4 separate regions of the Homo sapiens genome follow, and regions 1, 2 and 3 are each reported to be linked to region 4. The links are microRNA targets in miRTarBase. Many come from high-throughput screens and were not tested one by one. Region 4 holds a microRNA gene; each other region holds the end of a gene's coding sequence. Distances are between the middles of the regions.

The links. Region 4 holds the annotated microRNA hsa-miR-548f-5p (UGCAAAAGUAAUCACAGUUUUU, at 1,795-1,816, opposite strand). A microRNA usually pairs through its seed, bases 2 to 8, with sites in the 3' UTR of a target mRNA and lowers its output. Matches are read on the target gene's strand: a 7mer-m8 pairs with bases 2 to 8, a 7mer-A1 pairs with bases 2 to 7 and ends in A, and an 8mer does both.
Region 1: the mRNA of WNT7B is a reported target of hsa-miR-548f-5p. Seed matches in the 3' UTR shown: 7mer-A1 at 2,569-2,575.
Region 2: the mRNA of ZMYND11 is a reported target of hsa-miR-548f-5p. Seed matches in the 3' UTR shown: 7mer-A1 at 840-846 and 7mer-A1 at 876-882.
Region 3: miRTarBase lists AGFG1 as a target of hsa-miR-548f-5p. Seed matches in the 3' UTR shown: 7mer-A1 at 2,284-2,290.

The regions. Positions count from the first base shown.
Region 1 is chr22:45,920,236-45,923,235 of GRCh38, forward strand. WNT7B (Wnt family member 7B) reads right to left here. Exons shown (of 4, transcript NM_058238.3): 4 at 131-3,000. The coding sequence ends at 2,621. Among named protein-coding and RNA genes, the nearest start is that of WNT7B, 55 kb to the right of the region's middle.
Region 2 is chr10:251,728-254,960 of GRCh38, forward strand. ZMYND11 (zinc finger MYND-type containing 11) reads left to right here. Exons shown (of 15, transcript NM_001370100.5): 15 at 621-2,910. The coding sequence ends at 743. Among named protein-coding and RNA genes, the nearest start is that of ZMYND11, 120 kb to the left of the region's middle.
Region 3 is chr2:227,553,958-227,557,203 of GRCh38, forward strand. AGFG1 (ArfGAP with FG repeats 1) reads left to right here. Exons shown (of 13, transcript NM_004504.5): 13 at 479-3,246. The coding sequence ends at 538. Among named protein-coding and RNA genes, the nearest start is that of SCYGR2, 43 kb to the right of the region's middle.
Region 4 is chr10:54,606,132-54,609,377 of GRCh38, forward strand. It overlaps MIR548F1 (microRNA 548f-1), which reads right to left and starts at 1,826; the gene lies at 1,743-1,826. The region is part of intron 2 of PCDH15 (protocadherin related 15); the gene reads right to left. LOC105378311 (a long non-coding RNA gene) reads left to right here. Exons shown (of 6, transcript NR_134503.1): 3 at 1-854.

The DNA of each region.
Region 1 (3,000 bases), not on the chromosome of region 4:
GCAGGAGGAAGCCAGACAGCTGGGGGCACATGAAGGCCTCGGGGGCTCGTCCTGGGTGGGCAGAGCATGTGTCCCCACCGGTGGGGCCGCAGCTGCAGGTACATCGCATGGGGATTCCACACACACTCACTTTTCCGATTCCAGCTTTTATTGGGCCGAGCACTCCCCTCCAGGGGAGGCTGCCGTCAGAAGGGTGGGGACGCAGCACCTTGGTCGCCATCACCCCCATCTGGGCCACCCTGACCCCCGTCTCACCCAGGCAAAGGGCCTGTTGCTGGCAGACTTTGGGGTGGGCAGGGGCTCAGTGGGGTGCCCGGCAGCCAAGGGACAGTGCGAGTGTCTCGGTGGCATCAGGGGCCCCAAGGGTCTGTTGAAGCAGGAGGAGCCTGGTTCGGGAGATGGGGGATGGGATGGGGGGTGGGTATGGGGAATAGGGATGAGGGATGGGATGGGGGATGGGGTCAGGGATGGGATGGGGGATGGGATGAGGGATGAGATGAGGGATGGGATGGGATGGGGGATGAGGGATGGGGGCCGCAGCCATCCCCCTCTCCGGTACCCAGTGTAGGTCACAATAATTTAAAGACACTATAGACATTTCGACGCTATATAACAACATAAGTTAACCAGGTTCCTTGCAGAGGCTGCCGGGCCTATGGACTCAGGTGTGTTCTGGGACTTGGGGAAGGTAAGGGGATGGGGCCAGGCTGAGGGTGGGGCATTCACGGTGGCCCGGAGACTCAGAGCGTCCAGGCATGGTTAGAGGCACATGGGCTGGACCACAGGGCCAGAGCCCAGGAGGGACCCACTTGCCCCAGGCTGAGCCCAGGCCCTTGGCTTGTCGGCTGCTCAAGAACACATTCCTACGGGCTTCCAAGAGAACACACCCTAAATGGGGGCCAGGCCGTGGGCAGTGGGGGTGCACCAGGAGCCAGCTGCAGACCATCCTCTCTGGCCTCGGACAAGTTCCTCCCTCTGTCACTCATGCTCCTCAGAGACAGGGGTGGGAGCATCCAGAAAGGACATGTCCAGCTCTGGATCCAGATTTTCTCAGCACTGGGGTCAGGGTAAAAGGACCAGGACAGGGCTAGGCGAAGCCTCAAAGGCACCGAGGGGAGTGCAGGCCCCAATGAGGCTGTCAGGGGGTGGAGGGAGCAGCCAAGTGCCTCAAGGCATGGGAGCTACCTACTGCCACCCCGGGCATCCTGATGTGTTCTCCCAGGTCCAGAGCCCCAGGCTGGGCAGGAGAAAGGTGGAAGCCTCCAGTCACAGCTGCAGGGTCTCTGGTAGGTCCTTGTGCCACTCTGGGCCTCAGAGTTCCCATCTGTCAAGTGGGACAAACATCCCTGACCACTCACCACCTGCCTGACCCCCGCGGCAGCACTGTCCCAGGGGTCAGGCTGGCTCCAGGGGGAAGGGGGTCTCTGTAAACTGGAGGTGCCAGGCCGGGAGGGTGACAGGATGAGGGAGGGAACGAAGGACTCCTGGAACCTGACGTGGGTGATATTTTGATTTGCTTGATATTATTTTCTTTTCTTTTTTTGAGACAGAGTCGTGCTCTGTCACCCAAGTTGGAATACAGTGGCACAATCTTGGCTCATTGCAACCTCCACCTCCCGGGTTCAAGCAAGTGTCCTGTCTCAGCCTCCTGAGTAGCTGGGATTACAGGTGCACGCCACCACGCCCAGCTAATTTTTGTATTTTTAGTAGAGACAGGGTTTCACCACGTTGGCCAGGCTGGTCTCGAACTCCTGACCTCAGGTGATCCACCTGCCTCGGTCTCCCAAAGTGCTGGGATTACAGGTGTGAGCCACCGCGCCCAGCCATTGATAGGATTTTCAAAAGAAGGAAAGACGGCATGGAGGAGCCTGTCCATGGCTCTCCTCCAAGGCCCGGTCAGGGCTGTGTGGTCTGAAGAGCCCCTGCCCAGCTCACTTCTAGGACCTGCAGGCACCGCGTGGTCCCCATCAACCCCAGGCTGCCTCAGCTCTGCAGGGGCAGAGGGCCGGCCAGGTGGGGCCGGGAAAGGAAACAGAGGGTGTCTAGGGGATGGGCTGACACAGAGTACGGAGTTAGGACTGGCTATGTGTTAGTGCCGAGAATCCTCTTCTGATACTAAGAAAACATAAATAATTTGTGTCAACATCTGTCCCCACCGCCCCAGGGCCCAGCGGCAGACCCAGCCTGGGAACTGGTCTGGAGAGGCCAGCCGGCGTAGCTTTTCTGTGTCCATGCCGCCAGGTGGGGCTGGGGACGCTCAGTCTCCTCATCACTTTGCTCTCTGGGATACAGGTGTGTCCTGGACGTTCATTTTCCCAGAGAGAAGAAAGAGAACTTGCCGGGCCCCGTCGGGGAGCACCAAGACCCCTGGCCTTGCTCTCTGGGTGGGTCACGGGTGCTGTTCTGCCGCAGGAGGTGATGGGAGGAGGTGGCAGGAAGGAGCCCCAGGGAGGCGGGCAGAGGGCGTGGGCCCCGGCCGGTGCCCTCCTGCACCTGGAGCTCCCCGCTTCTGCACCCGTCTATGTCTGCTGCTGGCAGCACCAAGGCAGGGAAGGTGAGGAGTGGATGTGCAAAATGCCGCCGGGTTCCAGGGTGCCCGCGGCCGCCTCCGGGCCTGGCCTCACTTGCAGGTGAAGACCTCGGTGCGCTCGCTGCAGGTGTTGCACTTGACGAAGCAGCACCAGTGGAATTTGCAGTTGCACTGCCACACCTTGGTGTACTGGTGGGTGTTGTAGCCTCGGCCGCAGCACATGGTGTCACAGCCGTCCGCGCCGGGCGACGTGCGGTTGCAGAGACGGCCCTGCGTGCCCACGCTGCCCGTGGCCGCGTCCTCCTCGCAGTAGTTGGGCGACTTCTCAATGTACACCAGGTCTGTCTCCATGGGCTTCTGATAGCTGCGCAGCTGTTTGATGCGCAGGAAGGTGGGCTGCCGCAGACGGCTGGCCCGCACCACCTCCACCTGCACGGCCGCGTTGTACTTCTCCTTCAGCAGGTGGCCCA
Region 2 (3,233 bases), 54 Mb from region 4:
TGCACTAGAACATTCTTTGGGGGAGGTGTACATGGTGGGATGTTTAACAGCATCCCAGGCCTCTGTCTGCCAGTAGTACCTTCTGCCCTTAAGTTGTGACAGTCAAAAATATCTCCAGACATTGCCAAATAAGATGAAGACTGAGACTTGGCCACTAGATTTGAAGTTGTAAGTGACCCTGCTAGCAGCATATTAGTGGCATGGTATGAGTAAAGACTGCAGCGTATGTTAACGACGAGAGAAGAATTTGAAATAGGGAGTTTAGGCAAGTCTTTCAAGGAGCTTGTGGGGAGCAGAGAAATGCAAGTGGTAGCTGGAAAGGGATGTGAAGTCAAGAGCATTTTAAGAAAAGAAACGGGAATGACTCTCACAGAGATGGAAAAAACGGGAGGTGTCAGGTACCACCTGACAGCAGCTTGAGTTTGCTGACAACCAGGCATGAGCTGCAGTCATCCCCAGGGCTCCCTTTCCATCTGCTGTGCATAAAACGTATTCAGATTCCACAAAAGGTTGAGCCAGAAAGATCTTTTAAAAGCACCACCTCAAGAGTTTGCCATTTTAACCAGTCGCTTACACATCCACACCCAAGTCTAAAGACTGCCCCGATTTCTTACCTGCAGTGCTACAACTGTGAGGAGGAGGCCATGTACCACTGCTGCTGGAACACATCCTACTGCTCCATCAAGTGCCAGCAGGAGCACTGGCACGCGGAGCACAAGCGCACCTGCCGCCGGAAAAGATGAAGCTGGCCCTTCCCGGAGTCACCCCGATGATTACTCTTTTCAGACACAGCGGTTTTTGTTTCCAAGAAGCCAAAATTGTTTAGAATTTGCTTCCCATTTTGCACCAGCCTTTAAACACTTTTCGTGAAGAAATTTTGCACAGTAGTTTAAATCTTTTGTTAATGCTCCTCCGAAGTTTTTCAGGGGGTAAAAGTAACATCAGTGGAGGGTATTATTTTAAATAAATTTTAATTGAGAATTTGTTGCATTTTCAGCAAATTTTAAAACATTTTTAGGTTTTACAGAGATTTTAACCTTTAAACAACAGATCTTTAAAAAACAGGTGAATACAAGTGAGTTTAACAAAGAAACATTTAGAATAGATCTGAATGTAAGAACTACAGAACTGTTTCAGAAATAAAACATACTACCTTGATGTGACATTTTTTTCTTAACCTTGTTGAGCTGGTTTTGTTCAGCTTAATTTACTGTTCAAAGGCATTATCTGTTGGTCACACCAGTGGGTATATGATTGAATTTAGGGAACAGGGTTGACACAGCAGGGCTAGTCCTGCATATTTTTTCTTAAATATTTCCCAATTGTGTTTTTCATTATTTCTTTTCAATATATAACTTTTATAACAAATTATTAGCTTTGATCTTGTAGTTTAAAATTGCAGGGAACTGGGGTAATCTTTTACTGAGCTGGATCTTAGAGAAAATGAATATTTAAATTTTAAAGTTTGCACATTTCATCTTTGTCCTAACATGAGTGCTTGTAACAAAATAAACAACAAAAACAAAGCCAAAAACTACCTTTATCCATATGTGAAATTATAGATGAGGCATACGAATTTGTTTAATGCTTCCCTTCCCTTCCCACATATCATCTCACTGCCTATTATCTGGTGTCACCTCATGTATCGTAAGTTAATACTAAAAGAAGAGAAAGCACTTAAGTTTCACAGAAGCCGTTATGTTTGTAGTAATGGGTCATTGCCTACTAATGAACTCCATCACTGTACACAGAATGAAGAATAATGCATGTTAATTTTCTTGTATTAAAGATGCCGTGATTTGTAAAAAGTCTGTATTTTGCGGAATGTCTGGATTAAGAAGCATTACCAATAGGAATGGATCGATAGTTGAATAATGATTTTTTATACATAGATATATAAAATACAGCCAGGAAAACTTAAATTACTTTTCTTTTAAAATATCTCACAATTTATGTGGTATTTTTAAAGACTGATCTTAGACCAAGTCAAATTCCCATTTATCATTTAGTTATTTTTTGAGGTTAGAGAATAATTTGTACATATTTATTTAGACCTTTGATATTTATTAAAGCAATTACTCACAATGGAAGTGAAAGAATCAGGAGAAAAGCCTTTTAAAAAGTATTCTCCAGGTTTGTCAGGGTCACTCTAAAGATAAAAATGTAACTAAGTCTTCTGTGAAATATCATCCATCTAATCTTGATGCTGTTGCAGATGGTGGTGACACAAGTTAATTGACAAACTACTGCCAAATGGTGCACAATATTTTGTAAAAAGTACCCAGTAGCCCCATTTCATACAATGTACCTAAATTATGCAGTAACTTGGCATCATCGTTCCCTCCTTGTTGCTGTGTAATTAGTCAGTGTTGCCACAGTGTGTGGCGCTGATGGAGATGTCAGAACCGAGAACACTTAACCTTCTTTGATTGTTTTTCAAGTTTTAAGACTTCGATCCACCCCTATGAGAGCAAGTAATTGTGGAAATATTTTTGGTGTAAAATCATTCCAGAGTATGTAATATTTAACTGATAGCTGCATGAAAGTGAGATTCGTGTTACTTTGGCTTTTCTGTCTCTGTTGACACGGTTGCACATTTCCAAGTTACTACAGCGTGAAAACTGTGTGTTTAAAAAAAAACAAAATTAAAAAAAGAGATTGTGGCCTGGTTTTGTAAAAGTTTTAGGTAAAATTACAATTGATTGTTTTAGGAATCATTATTAAAAATTTTCTGCAAATCATAAAGCTATATCGAGGTGTTGAGCTTAGCCACTATGCACATTGTAATTATTCATTGTGGCTGTCCAGTTCTATGATGCATTCTGGCATTTTGTAAGCTGCTCTGACTAGCAATATATAGATTCATTTAATGTGTTAACATTGGTTAATAAATGTATTTAAAAAAAACTAGCTTTAGTAATTTGTTTATTTAGTGTAGTCCCCTATACCCAACCAAATACTACCGTCGCTAAATGTTGATCACATACTGTGGGTCACTCTTTAGTGACTGCTTAACTTTATATAAAATCAGTGTGTTAAACATCATTTGTTCACTTAAACGTATAAATTGAATTTACTTTCACCAGATCTCAAAAAGACCATACATGATATAATAAGGAGAGGATGATTATTATATCAGCTGCATATCAATTATTGCAAATCAGCCTGAAAAACAGATACACAACTCAGAATGGAATAGATTCTTAATTGGAGGCCAGCTGAGGCTAACCCTC
Region 3 (3,246 bases), not on the chromosome of region 4:
TTTCTGACCTTTTAAAAAATTAGTTGCAAATCAAAGCATTGATAGTTTTTAAAAAATTAGTTGCAAATCAAAGCATTGACAGTAGATCAGCTATTTTATAATATGAAACTTATCTGCTTTCTTGTCAAAATAACACTTTATGAGAGGCCCTAGGAATTAGTGAACATAAAAGAGAGGTCTTAAGAGTCAGAAGTTTTGTTTGAATCACACGTGCTTTTCTAAGACCATTCTAAGATTCTTCTTAGAATCTATTACAAGAACTGTTTGAAGTACTGGATATGAAAGACGTAGCACAGTTCATGACACATAGTAGTTTGATATAGCTTATTGCCAATAACAAATATTATTGCCAATAATTTAAAAAATAATTCTTAACCAAAAAGTCTAATTAAAAAAATTAAATTCAGTTTAATGTTTTTATATTTTGTACATGCACTACTTTTGTCTCTTTATTTATTTGTCTTATGTTTTCCTTTAGACTGGTGCACCAACAGGACAATTTCCAACAGGAAGCTCATCAACCAATCCTTTCTTATAGCCTTATATAGACAATTTACTGGAACGAACTTTTATGTGGTCACATTACATCTCTCCACCTCTTGCACTGTTGTCTTGTTTCACTGATCTTAGCTTTAAACACAAGAGAAGTCTTTAAAAAGCCTGCATTGTGTATTAAACACCAGGTAATATGTGCAAAACCGAGGGCTCCAGTAACACCTTCTAACCTGTGAATTGGCAGAAAAGGGTAGCGGTATCATGTATATTAAAATTGGCTAATATTAAGTTATTGCAGATACCACATTCATTATGCTGCAGTACTGTACATATTTTTCTTAGAAATTAGCTATTTGTGCATATCAGTATTTGTAACTTTAACACATTGTTATGTGAGAAATGTTACTGGGGAAATAGATCAGCCACTTTTAAGGTGCTGTCATATATCTTGGAATGAATGACCTAAAATCATTTTAACCATTGCTACTGGAAAGTAACAGAGTCAAAATTGGAAGGTTTTATTCATTCTTGAATTTTTCCTTTCTAAAGAGCTCTTCTATTTATACATGCCTAAATTCTTTTAAAATGTAGAGGGATACCTGTCTGCATAATAAAGCTGATCATGTTTTGCTACAGTTTGCAGGTGAAAAAAAATAAATATTATAAAATATGCTATTGTTTTTGTGTTCTTGCTGCAATGCCTTTACCAAAGTGGCCTTAAATATGAGTAGTGAATTGAGAACATCTTGAATTCTTAAAAGACTTCTTAGTGACTTTTTATAAAAAGGCCATGTAGAAAATTTATTAAAACTACTATGACTGCTACATTCAGGAATATGCCAGTGGTAAAGCATTTAAATGTAGCTTGTCAGATTTACCATAATCCTACTAATTTCTTTGCAGCTTATTAATTTTGTGAAATTTGTATATATGAAGAATTTGCATGTATGTGTATTTACAAATTTTTCTAAGTATCTTGAATTCTCAGACTGCAAAAGGCCTATTTTAACTATTGATTTTTTTTAAAAAAAATTGTCTTTGAATGTATTGGAAGTAGACATGCATTAACTGTGACATTATTGCACCTCAGTTTTTTTCTTTCTTTTTTTGGGCAAACTGATATTATCTATAGGATATTTGTTTATGTTTGTTTTTTGGGGGAAAGAAACTGGAACTCAGTGTTACCTTAAAGTTACGGAATACTTTGTTTTAAAGGAAAAGATAATAAGTTTAGTTATATCTTTTTGTTAATATTCAAATGAACTTGTTTAAGTATCTATGTACAGTAATGCCTCATTCATCTAGAGGTAATCTGGCAGTCTTGTGAAAACCGAACACAACTCAGAAACTTGGAATCGTTTTTTTTAAAAATGCCTCTGAGCAACCCATATAAGTCACAAAGTCTGTGTGTTAGAGCTTATGCATTTGTTTTTATGAGAGATTTTAATAAATTTAATTATTTGCTTGTCCAGACTATAGCATATTAGCTGTTTAGAAGGGATGGCTTGAAAGGAAGGAGACTGAAAAACACTCTGAGAGCATACACTGTCCAAGGCCATTAGTGTAAGGACCGCTACCCAGCCTAGAGGACATCACTATACTACATCATCTGATGATTATTCTTTATTATGCCTCTAGGTAATTAAGTAAAGGTGAAATTGCATACACAGATATGTAGTACATATTTTAAAAGTTTTATCTTAAATTGATTAAAACTTTTTAAAAAGCTTTGGTATTAAAAGAGGTAAACATCAGTTTCCTCAAACATTTTATTCATGTTGAATGCCTTTTTGCAATGATGACTGAGTTGTTATCATAGTATTTTAAAACCTGTATAGTGTTTTAGACTTGTTAAAACATTGCTGTCTAGTGTACATCTAGCTAAAAGTGTGGTTTATCTAAACCGTTTTAATAAGCAAGATGACTGGGAAATCTCTGCCCCTTTTCTGAGCAGTATGCCTCTTCTTTTAGAATTAAATGAATGCTGCACAGGTCCAGATGTGTGTTGATGTAGACTTGAAATGTCTCCACATTTTGGAGGACTTCCTCAGCCCTTTTCATTGAGGGAAAATATATTTGAATTTCTGTTTTAGATTGTATCGGGTCCCAGTTGATTCATGTGTACAAAGTTATGCTACCTAATTACAGACCATTACCCAAATATCCTACCAGGCTTTCCATCTGAATAGTAAATTAAACAGTTGTTATCAAAATGATTTTAAAGACTATTTCTTTTTCTGGGTAACTATTGAAGTTTGTAATTAAATGGGGGCTCTTACTGACTTTAAATTAGCGCTTATAAAATAAAAATGTTTAGTTCAAGAAGAGACCCAAGCTGGGTATGGTGGTGTGAGAGCCTGTGAGTCCTAGCTACCTGGAGGTGAGGTGGGAACATCACTTGAGCCCAGGAGTTGGAGGCTGCAGTGCGCTACGATCACACCACTGCACACCAGCCTGGGGATAGAGTGAGATCCCATCTCTAAAAAATGAAAAAAAGAAGAGAGGTAGCTTTAAAGTGGTTTTTCTCATGATATTCACTGTTTATTATTAAAGAAAATCAGCTTTCGTTAGACTTTTACATTTAGATTTATTCTAGTTTTATATAGACCATCAAAATTATGTTGAGTACTAAAAAGGAGAAAAAATCCTGGAAGGTAACAAGGCTGAAGACCTTCAAATTTCCTGGCTTACTGGTTTAGTCACATCATTTTTCCTGTTCAGGTATCTGCAGATATCCCTGTTCAGGAAAGA
Region 4 (3,246 bases):
GATTTGTAGTCTAACTTCTTTCATAGAGAATCTGGGAACTGGGCTTTGTTGTTGTAGCTAGTTGGTGAATGAGGAGGTGAAGTGGAGGAGATATGGGAAGAACCCATTTGTTTGGGCATTTTTTCTCAATGTACCTTAGTTTGTCTGTAGTAGCTGGCCACAGTAGTGATGATTCTATTTCCTGAGAGGTGAGAATTGCTGCCAAAGAATGTCTGCCATGGATGAGAATACAAAGAAAGGAAACTAAGAACTCTCAAAGCAGCTACTAGAAACCCTTCATAGAGGACAAGAATTATCTTCAGTTTTGAGATATATGAGAATGATTACAACTCCTTTGAGCAGGCTTCACATACTGCCCAAAGATGCTTCTCTAGTTTGTGTCCTTCTTGCTATCAGAAAGAGAGAAGGAAACTAAATAAAACAAAATAAAAATTTTAGAATTTTGTGCTGTCTTGGACATGGAAGCAATGGGTCAGGATCAAGATTGTGGAAAGATGCCAGTTCGGATGCAGGCTAGAAAAATTAGTATTGTCCTCAACTGGAATCAGCAACCAAAAGACTAAGTGTATGTGTCTCTGTAGGCTGAAGGGTTTTCAGATATCATAAAAGATAAGAAGTCAAGCTACACTTGTTTGGAAGCATGTGGCAGAGAACACAGATTAATTGTTTAAAGGATGGCCCAAACTTAAGGCCAAGTCACATCAAACCCATCAGAAACCAAAAGTGTGGCAGAATTCCTAACAGAAGGATGAGAGAGGAAGAGCCTTATATAGATCTGTCTTCTGTTTCACATTCTGACTATTCTAAAGCTTTTAATGAAGAATTCCCTAGAGTCATAAAACAAAGGCTAAATGGTGAGTGGCTGCAAATACACATAAAAATATAGTGAATTTTTTGAAAAGATATACTAATTTCAGGTGGCTAGAAAGATTTATTAACATAAGTAATAAAGGTCTTTTAGTTGTCAAAGTAACTTATACTTAATATTTATTGCAATTTTAAAAAATTAAAATGCTAAAAATTATTTGTGAAAATGAGTTGTTTTATATGTTTACATTTAATAACAATACTTTTTACATAAAGAAAATACAATAATTAAATATATCTGAACTAGTCAAAAGATAATTATAAGATTTAAAATTGAGTTTATGTGCAATAAATGTGGTAAACAATAATGTGATATAAAATCTTCTAAATTTAATAATATTCTTGGTAGAGGATTCTGGGGCAAAAATATGATTTTCTCCATATCCCTGCCCACTACCCAATATATGATAACATGTGGCATTATTAAATATGGAAAAATATTAAAGAATGGCAGTAGACTAGAGAGAAGAGAAGGAAAGGCATACAGGAAATCCAGGTCCCTGCCCTCAGAGACCTCTCAATTCCTGGCATATGTTTATGTTTTGAACATTATGCAAATTTGTCTGCATGACAAATTTATTCTTGTTTCAGGTTAAGAGTAGAAATCAACCCATAGTCCTTACGATTAGAATTGCCTTAGCATAACGATTCAATCAGTAAGAAAATATAATAGACTAGAGGGTAATGGAGATTTTAAAATTTATATTATCTTAATATATTTATTAGAAAAAATATTAGATTGCTCAATAAATCAATGGTAACTTTAAGGCTTTTACTGTCTACTACAAAGAATTTTTATAGATATATGAAGAATGATGGTAAGGAAGAGATATGATGCCATGAGGCCTACTGTGAGCAAGACACTGCTAATCAGGCTATTAGGTTGGTCCAAAAGTAATTACAGTTTTTGTCTTTGAAAGTAATGTCAAAAACTGTGATTACTTTTGCACCAACCTAATACTTCCGCACTTTGGAAAGGCTTTGCCTACATCATTTTGGTTATTGTGAGAAGACTTGCACACATAAGGAATTTTTCAAAATAATATTTTAACTTGAAATACTTTTCTTTGACAAATACAGTAAAAGTGATAGAGCCAAAAAGAGGACTAGGCATAGCCCTGAGGGGATTTCCGAGCAAAAAAATCCCAGGGGATTTGTATGCAAACACTTCGCTCAATAAAAGGAGAGGCCAGGTGTGGTGGCTCACAACTGTAATCCCAGCACTGTGGGAGGCCGAGGTGGCTGGATTGCTTGAGCCCAGGAGTTTAGGACGAGCATGGGCAACATGACAAAAACTTATCTCTACCAAAAAAAAAAAAGAAAAAATAGCGGACATGGTGGGGTACACCTATAGTCCAGCCACTTAGAGAGGCTGATGTGGGAGAAACGCTTCAACTCGGGAGTTTGAGACCCGCCTGGGCAGTTTAGTGAAACCTCATCACTACAGATAATAATAATAATAATTATCTGGGTGTGGTGACACACGCCTATAGTTTCAGCTACTCTGGAGGCTGAGGTGGGCGGATAGATTGAACCCAGGATATCTAGGCTGCAGTGATCTGTGATCATGCCACTGCACTCCAGCCTGGGTGACAGAGACCCTCTCTTAACAAAATAAAAAATACAAAAAGGAGAAAGTCATCAAACAAAATGATGTGACTTAGTCTGGTAATATTCGTCAAGAAGTCAAGATTTATGCTCTCTTACAATTCTGACTTTCACATTGAATTAAATTAAGGGTGTCTTGGCTTGTTTAGTGTAGTTTAGTAAAATACAGTCATTTGTTTTCCACAGCTATTATATTATTCTCCATTAAAAAAAGAAGAAGAAGAAGAAATGAGAAAAAAAAATCAGTCCCTAGCTAGAAATTTTAAGAGTCAATAACATTTGGGAAATGAAAATATATTCTGAAGTAGTATAATCATACCCAAATTTTTAGACTCTGTACTCAATCTATAAGATGTATGTGAGCAAAATATTATTAGAAGCAACATGAATGATAATCACGCACTACAAGCGCACGAATAATGTTTCCCTGAAAGGTACAATAAAAAATTATTCAATGTGAAACAAAACGTTGACTGCAACAATTATTAAAATTTGACTATTGAATTGTCAGTATACTCAATTATGAAGACATTTGGAAAATATAAATGAGCACTACTGTTTTTGCTCATTTTTTAAAAATGAAAATTTTTGGTAATGTCTGACCTGAAGGCAGATATTCATTATAATAGTCAAATATCATAAATACATTTCAAATGTTATGTATTCTACATAAATTACTCAGGAGAGGAACATGTAGGCTCATAAACTTGCACACAAGTAAAGGAATGTTTCTTAGGAAAAAATTCTGTGTTAAAGATATTCCACACCAAT